2 separate regions of the Homo sapiens genome follow, and region 2 is linked to region 1. The links come from fine-mapping of genetic effects on gene expression. A gene starts in region 1. The other region holds a variant in brackets. All regions are shown on one strand. Distances are between the middles of the regions.

Region 1 (4,399 bases):
GATGAAATCAGCAGTAACAGAATTCTCTTGAGGACTTCCAGAGATTGGGTTCTGTCTTTAAGTCTCACTTCTCCTTTGGGTCAGTATCTAACTTTTAAGCTATCCTTTAGATGCAGTGTTCTAAATTTTTAAAATTTATTATAAATTATACAGGTAATACATATTGTACTCTTCTTATAAACTATTCAAGCAATAGAAATAAAACAAAAGTCTCCTTTGACACTTAGCCCAACAAATTCCTTTCCTGTATTCCCTTCCAAGATGTAACAAGTTATCCATTTAATATGAATCAAACTCAGTATAAACTCAATAAACTCAAGATATACACATACTTACAACAAATAGTTTTGTGGAGTTTTTTTTTCCACATACATATTGCATTGTATTCTAGTGTCTTTTTGCTTAAGAACTTACGTATCTGGAGGAGCTTTCCCTGTTGATTCATAGATATCAATCTTATTTTAACAGCTGCATTGGATTTCACAATACAGCAAACTCAGATTTCTTGCAGAAAAAAATGAAGATAACTAGAAAATATAAGTCTTCTTCCCTGGCACAACTGTCCTCATTGCTGAATCCCTGGTTGCCATACAGCTTGCTCTTGACTGGAGAGTCAGGAAGGGAAGGGCCTCATACCCCTCTCAGCTGGGTGCAGAGCAACACCCCAAGCCTACAGCTCAGATGACCCTACATGTGAGCCCTCTATGGTTCAACTGTCCTCACCTTCCTCTTGGCCACTGTGGCCCAGTGCCATCCCCAAGACTTACCCACACAAGGAAGGTCATTCCAGAGAGACTATGTGTGTGGGCTGGCCCCAGGGAGGGGCAACTGTAGACCTTTTTGTTCTACAGGAGGGGGAGGTGGCAACCAAACAAAGTTCCATTGTCTGACCAACGCTGGGGGGCTCATGCCACCCCTACTCCCACCCCAACTGTCCTGAATCTCTCACCTCAGCATGCAATACCATGTACTTACCTTCTGGAACTTCCACCTTAGAACCTTCTTGGGAATCCCCCTTGTTTAACAAGGGAGATAATTCACTGGCTCTAACTTCTATTCCTCCTGTTACAATATCAACCATTGCCCTTCTCAGCTGTGCTCAATGGTTCTATGAGTGGAACAAGTGTTGAGACACAACTCTCCCTCTTCCTTATACATCAAGATTCCTTCCCCCTATTTCCCTCACTATGCCCTTCTCCAACTCTCTATCTTTAACATTTTCTCAGGGTACCCCCAAATAGCCCAGTACAACCCAGAAGAGTCTAGGGCTCAAGCAGCTGACAGCAGAGAACCCTGGGCATTCTGGCCAGCCCCCTTTCCCTTGATGTCCTCCCCACCACCCCCACTTGCCTATGGCTCACTCATTGCACTAGGATTCAGGGCAGTTCAGAGAAGGGAAGGGGCCATTCCAATAATCCTGCTTTGACCTCTTACTCACCCAACATCTGCCAGGGGGCAAGGAAAGGGCTGGTCAGCTTATGAAGGAAGACAGCTTTAGAGGGATAAGATCCCAGAATCTCATAGAACCTCACTCCATTCACCCACACAACAGGTGAGGAGCCATAGAGAGACAAAAAATCTGAGGAGCTGAGACCACAAACCTGGGCTCCTTACTTAGATCGCACTCTCTTTTTCCTTCTGGGAAACTAAGGTTAAGGCACCTCCTGCACTGCTAGGGGACGAGTGGGAACCAAACCCAGGTGTTTGAGCCTATTTCTTTATGTAATCTAACACTGCTTCCCACCAGGCTGTTAGCATGGCTCTGGGGGCATGCTACTATTTCCAACCTGGGTCCAGCCATGGCCACCACTCAGGGAAGCTTGCTACACTCTCTTTTACCCTTTCTTTTAAAATAAAACCTCTACTTCCTCCCTCTAAATGCATATTTTTTTCTTTTCATATATATATATATATATTTTTTTTTTTTTTGAATTTTACAGATGGAGTCTGGTTATGTTGTCCAGGCTGGTCTCCAACTCCTGGGGCTCAAATAATTATCCCACCTTGGCCTCCCAAAGTGCTGGGATTACAGGCATGAGCCACCATGCCCAGCCGCATATTTTTTCTTTCTGAATATAATGTCACCTTCCTGCTCCTGCTTGTTCTTTCTTTGGTTGCAGTGGGGAGTGCAGCAAAGGCTGTGGGGATTGCTGAGAGACACCTGAGTCCCAAGACTCCCAGAGTAGAGTGGCTCCACTTACCCAAAGAAGAGAAGAGCAGCACAGCCAGGATAGGGCTGGGGCTGGATGAGGGAGCCCCAGGAGCCATAGCTGGGGCAGGGGCAGGGGCCCGGAGCATCTGTGGGGTTGAGAAAGTGGGGGACCAGGAACTGAACGGGGGGTTCCTGGAACCTGCTTAAAATCCCCTAGGGCCCCAGCATGAGGGGGCTGTCCTCAGCCAGTAACCAATTGCAGCCTGGCATGTGCAGTTGAGAGGTGGTGGGGAGGGGGGCAGAGTGCAGGGAGCAGAAGGGGCATTGTATAGTCTGGGTGGAGGGGTGGGGGGACACATACCACCCCATACACAGAGGGCTTTGTGTCCACTGGCCTCCCCCTGCCCCAGGCTGGAATGTTGTGGGGGGTGGTGAGGGAGAGGGACAAAAACAGGGACACAGACACACTTCTCTGAGGGATAGATATGGAACCTCAATTTAAAGGCCATAAAAAGGGATTTCTCCTCAGCCTCCTTGCCTGAGAGAGGCTGCCTCACAGCCCTAGGAACTAGAGGGAGGTTTCCCCCAGAGAACTCTGAAAATAGGATATCCCCTGTTATCTCCTCTAATGTGGGCTGCATTACAGACTTCTTGAGATGACCAAGTCCTATGGGAGTTTTTTTCCCCGCACCTCCCTTCATCCTGTGCGATTCTTCCCAGACAGAAGTTTTTCTCCACTGGACTATTTCCAGGCAAGAAGCCCCTGACCTTTCCGTTTGTCAAGAAGTCCTTCAGTGCTTCATGCTGCTGTTTAAGTCCATTTCAATTTATTTCAAGGCTACAAAATTGTATTAAGTGCCAGCAATATGTAAAGTATGAGAATGCAGGTAATAGAGAGAGGAATAAAAATTAAGTCCTTCCAGCAAGGAGTTGAAAATTTGGTTTGGGGAGGTGGAGATGGGAAGATCAGAGGACAAACCCATCAACAATCAAGTATAATAAGCCATGACACTTCCTTTAGTAATGAACAAAATGCTGGGAGTACAAAAGAGGGGCACACACAGCTGCAATATCAGGAAGACTAAGTTATATGAGAGATTAAAGACAAAATAAACTTTAATAAATGAAGTTTATGCCAGGCATAGTGGCTGACACCTGTAATCTCAGCACTTTGGTAGGCTTATGCAGGAGGATTGCTTGAGTTTAGGAGTTTGAGACCTGTCTGGGCAACATAGCAAGACCTCGCCTCTACCAAAATTTTTTAAAAAATCAGCTGGGCATGTTATCACATGCTTGTAGTCCCAGCTACTTGGGAGGCTGAGGCAGGAAGATCGCTTGAACCTGGGAAATCAAGGCTGCAGCGAGCTATGATTGTGCCACTGCTTTCCACCCTGGGCTACAGAATGAAACTCTGTCTCAAAAATAAATAAATAAATAAATAATCAAACAAATAAATAGTTCAGAGGGAAGAATAGTTGTGTCTAGGAGGCAATGTTAGATATGAATCAGCCTTGAAGGATGACTGTCATTTTGGAAAGGGAGATAGGGAGGGTTACCAGAAGATAGAACAGCAAAAGCAAGGACAAAGAGGTGAGACGGAGAGACAGAATGTGTGTGTGTGTGTGTGTGTGTGTGTGTGTGTGTGTGTGTGTGTGTGTGTGTATGTATATGAGATGTAGGTTTCTGAAGTGTTGGATATATTCAGGGCCGATCTTGTGCCATCCACTTTGACTTGATTTGGGGAAACTTGAAGTGGCATAGTCAGAAATGAGACTGGACAGGAAAGTCGAAACCAGTTTGTGAAAGGCCTTAAATGACAGGTGAAAGAAGGTGAATTCAATTTGGTACATCATGAGAACCTGAAGGTGTTGGGGTGGAGTTAGCCATGGGGATGTCTACATAACCAGAGCTGAGGTTTTTTTGTTTGTTGAGGCAGTCTCGCTCTGTTGCCCAGGCTGGAATGCAGTGGCATGATCATGGCTCACTGCAGCCTTGACCTCTGAGGCTCAAGCAATTGTCCTACCTCAGCTTTCCAAGTAGCTGGGAACTACAGGCGCATGCCAGCATGCTGGGCTAGTTTAAAATTTTTTTTTTTTTTTTTTCAGAGATAAGGTCTTGCTCTGTGGCCCAGGCTGTAGTGCAGTGGTGCAATGATAGCTCACTGCAGCCTCAACCTCCCAGGCTCAAGCGATCCTCCCACTTCAGCCTCCAGATTAGCTGAGCCACAGGCAGCCACCACCATACCCA
Region 2 (4,399 bases), 24 kb after region 1:
CACCATACCTGGCTAATTTTTTGTATTTTTCGTAGAGACGGGGTTTCGCTATGTTGGCTAGACTGGTCTTGAGCTCCTGACCTCGTGATCTGCCCGCCCTGGCCTCCCAAAGTGCTGGGATTACAGGCATGAGCCACCGCGCCTGGCAACAGTGAATATCTTAATTTTAGTATTTTTGCTGGGAAGGCTGAGAATTTCCCAAATCATTAAGTCCTGTTTTTTTGTTTGTTTGTTTGTTTTATTTAAGAGACAGGGTTTCACTGTGCCACCCAGGCTGGAGTGTAGTAGTGGTGTGATCATAGCTCGTTGTAACCTTGAACTCCTGGACTCAAGTGATCTTCCTGACTCAGCCTCCTGAGTAGCTGGGACTACAGGTGCATGCCACCACACCTGGCTAGTTTTTAATTTTTTGTAAAGACGGTCTCAATATATTACCCAGGCTGGTCTTGAACCCCTGAGCTCAAGCGATCCTCTCACCTTTTTCTCCCAAAGTGTTGGGGTTACAGCTGTAAGCCACCGTGCTCAGCTTGCTTTTTATTTAACAGCTCTTCCCTCAGTCTGTTTCTTTCCTTTCACATTTTACTATAAAGAGCAAAAAGAAATCAGGTTGCCACTTCAGTAGATTCTGCTTTCCACATTATCGTGGGACATAATTCTGCTAAACTTTCTGCCCTATGTAACAAGGATCCCCTTTCCACAAGTTTTTAATAACATGTTCCTAATTTCCTCCTGAGCCTTTACTAGCTGAATTAACATTCATATTTTCCTTTTTGAAATACAATTTGTATACCATACGGTTCACACATTGAAAGCATACAGTTTAGTGGCTTTTGTTAAATGCAGAGTTGTTCAGCCATCACCACAATTTTAGAATATTTTCTTTTTCTTTCTTTTTTTTTTTTTTGAGATGGAGTCTCGCTCTGTTGCCCAGGCTGGAGTACAGTGGCATGATCTCGGTTTACTGCAACCTCTGCCTTCTGTGTTCAAGTGATCTCCTGCCTCAGCCTCCCAAGTAGCTGGGATTACAGATGTGCATCACCATGCCTGACTAATTTTTGTGTTTTTAGTAGAGACAGGGGTTTCACTGTGTTGGCCAGGCTGGTCTTGAACTCCTGACCTCAGGTGATCTGCCTGCCTTGGCCTCCCAAAGTGCTGGGATTATAGGCATGAGCCACCATGCCCAGCCAATTTTAGAATGTTTTCATCACTCCAGAAAGAAACACTACATTTCTTAGCCATCACCACCAATCGTTTGTCCCTCCCAGCTCTAGACAATCAGTTATTTACTTTCCATCTTATAAACTTACCTATTCCGAACATTTCATTTAAATGTAGTGATAAAATATGTGGTCCTTTGTGACTGGCTTCTTTTACTTACCATAATGTTTTCAGCGTTCATCCATGTTTTAGCATATATCAGTGCTTCCTTCCTTTTTATGGCCGAATAATATTTCATTGTATGTACATACAGTGTTTTATTTACCCATTTATAAATTGATGGACGTTTGAGCTGTTTCCACTTTTTGGCTATTAGAAATAATGCTGCTATGACCATTTATTTGTGTACAAGTTTTTGTGTGCACATATGTTTCATTTCTCTTGGGTATATACCTAGGAGTAGAATTATTGCATCATATGGTAACTCTATGTTTAACTTTTTTTTTTTTTTTTTTTTTAAAGACGGAGTCTCGCTCTGTTGCCAGGCTGGAGTGCAGTGGCGCAGTCTCAGCTCATTGCAACCTTCACCTCCCAGGTTCAAGCGATATTCCTGCCTCAGCCCCCAAGTAGCTGGGACTACAGGCATGCGCCACCGCGCCCAACTAATTTTTCTATTTTTAATAGAGACGGGGTTTCACCATGTCGGTCAGGATGGTCTTGATCTCTTGACCTCATGATCCACCTGCCTCAGCGTCCCAAAGTGCTGGGATTACAGGCATGAGCCACGGCATCCGGCCTATGTTTAACATTTTGAGGAACTACCAGACTGTTTTCCAAAGTGACTGTACCATTTTACATTCACACTAGCAGTGTATAAGGGTTCTAGTTTCTCCACATCCTCACCAGCACAACATCCATATTTCTACTAAAATCTGTTCAAGGCAATCTGGGCTTTTTAAAAATCATGGTCCTAAAAATTCTTTTAGTCCCTTCCCACTGCCCAATTTCAAAGGCACTTCCACATTTTTGGGTATTCGTTACAGCTGCACTCCTCTTCTAGTTACCACAATCTATACTAATTTTCTATTTGCTGCCATAACAAATTACTGCAAACGTTGTGACTTAAAACAACACAAATTTATTACCTTATAGTTCTGTGGGTCAGAAGTTTGACAAGATCTCCCTGGGCTAAAATCAAGGTGTTGGCAGGGCTCTGTTTCCTTCTGGAGGCCCTAGGGAAGAATCCATGTCCTTGCCTTTCCTAGCTTCTAGAGGCTATCTGAATTCCTTGGCTTCTGCCCTCCTTCCTCCATCTTCAGAACCAGCAATGCTACATTGAGTTCTTCAGTCACATCATGCTGACCCTGCTTCCGTCATCTCATTTCTTCTTTGACTCCTTTCTTCTGTGAGCCTCTTCTGCTTTTCTTTTT[T/C]CTCATTTCTCTCTTCTGCTGTTAAGGACCTTTATGATTACACTGGGCCCGTCCTAATAATCTAGGATAGTCTATGTTGTTTTGTTTTTGAGACAGGGTCTCGCTGTGTTGCCCAGGCTGAAATGGCACAAGTTTTCTACAAGTTTTTAATAAAACTTGTGGGGCATGATCATGGCTTACTGCAGCCTTGACTTCCCAGGCTTAAGTGATCCTCCCAGGTCAGCCTCCCAAGTACCTGGGACTATAGGCATGTACCACCATGGCTGACTAATTTTTAAATATTTTCTAGAAATGGAGTTTGGCCATGTTGCTCAAGCTGGCTTTGAGCTCCTGGGCTCAAGCTGTCCTCCCACTTCGGCCTCCCAAAGTTCTGGGATTACGGCTCACTCCCTCTTTATCTTAAGGTTGTCTTATTAGCAACCTTAATTTCATCTGCAACCTTAATTCCCCTTTGCCGTAAAAGGTAACATATTCATAGGTTCTAGAGATTAGAACATGAACATCTTTAAGGAGACTATTATTCTGCCTACTACAACTTCTTAATACTTGGCTGTGCATTTCCTCAATTGCAAGACAGTCTCCAAAGTACAACCATCACAATGTTACTATCTAAACCGTAGGTCCCATTCAAATTTTGCCACTTGTCCCATTAATGTCCTTTATAGGCCTAAGATTGAACCTAGAATTATATATTACATTTAGTTGTCATGTCTCTTTTTCCTGCAGTATGGGAGAGATTTTTAGTCTTTCCTTATTTGTTATGACCTTGACGTTTTTAGAATGTTCCTTAATTTGGGTTTGTTTGGTGTTTTATGATTTATGCATTTTTGGCAGGAATACCCCTGCGGTAATGCTATACTTCTGTCAGTACATTGTATCAGGAGGCATGTGCTAATGATTTATCCCATTACTGGTGATGTTAACTTTTGTCACTGTTTAAGATGTGTCTGCTAGATTTCTCTACTGTAAAGTTACTGAATAAGGATGTTGTATTAATTAATACATATTTTGGCGGGAGATACTTTGAAACTCTAAATATTCTTTCTCATCAGATATTTACTCACCAGTATCTGTTGGAGGTACTTGCCTAAATCATTTATTACTGTGATAGTTGCCAAATGTAATGTTGCTAATTTTATATATTATAATAATATTTTCTAGATTTGTTTGTTTTGATAGGGTAAAGCTTGCTTTTTTTATCAGTATGGACTCAAGGATAATATGGATCAAGCATTAATTTCCCCAAAGGATTATACTTTGTTATTATTTATTTTGGTGTTCAAATTGTCTCAGACCTGGCCAATAGGAGTTCTTCAAAATGACTCCTGTGAAATCAGTATCTGGGTGCTAGATGTGCTCATTGCTACTAGGATGTCATTGCTTCTAGGCCCGGTCTGTGGATAGAGGTAGCATATATATGTATGCAATCTCTGTCACATACATACGTGTGTGTATATAAGTATATACATACATCATACATACATATATACATATATACATACATCTCTGTTTATCTCATCTTCAGAAGTGGCATTGATAACAGTTTTTGCTGATGTCTTTGAAGATAAGTCCCTGTAAATCTGCTTTTTGTTTTTTTAGGCTAACCCAGCAAAGCATCTTGAGCTCTGCTACTCTCTTGGGTTTCTGCCAGTGAGGCTGGCCATTTTTTAACCACCTCCACAAATACCATAACCCTTCAGTTTTTTTCCAAGCCAGATTCCAGGAATAATCCTGTTTGTAGAAACTGGACATGCCACTAAAACAGAAGGAGGCTAATAAGTGATCTTATTTCTTGCTTCTCAATCGTGAAA

Which allele goes with the higher level. Alleles are on the strand shown, and positions count from the first base shown. SD is a standard deviation of normalised expression in the study named.
For the expression in whole blood of the gene that starts at base 2,331 in region 1, allele C in region 2 goes with a lower level than allele T (moderate effect, 0.61 SD a copy in GTEx).

The links. PIP is the estimated chance that this variant, and not a neighbour inherited with it, causes the effect.
Region 2: its variant is the best candidate, but not a certain one, in a credible set for the expression of MPZ in whole blood (GTEx, PIP 0.52).

The regions. Positions count from the first base shown.
Region 1 is chr1:161,307,638-161,312,036 of GRCh38, forward strand. MPZ (myelin protein zero) reads right to left here and starts at 2,331. Exons shown (of 6, transcript NM_000530.8): 1 at 2,202-2,331. The coding sequence starts at 2,268.
Region 2 is chr1:161,331,747-161,336,145 of GRCh38, forward strand. The region is part of intron 3 of SDHC (succinate dehydrogenase complex subunit C); the gene reads left to right. Among named protein-coding and RNA genes, the nearest start is that of SDHC, 20 kb to the left of the region's middle. The variant T/C (reference allele first, on the strand shown) is at 2,589.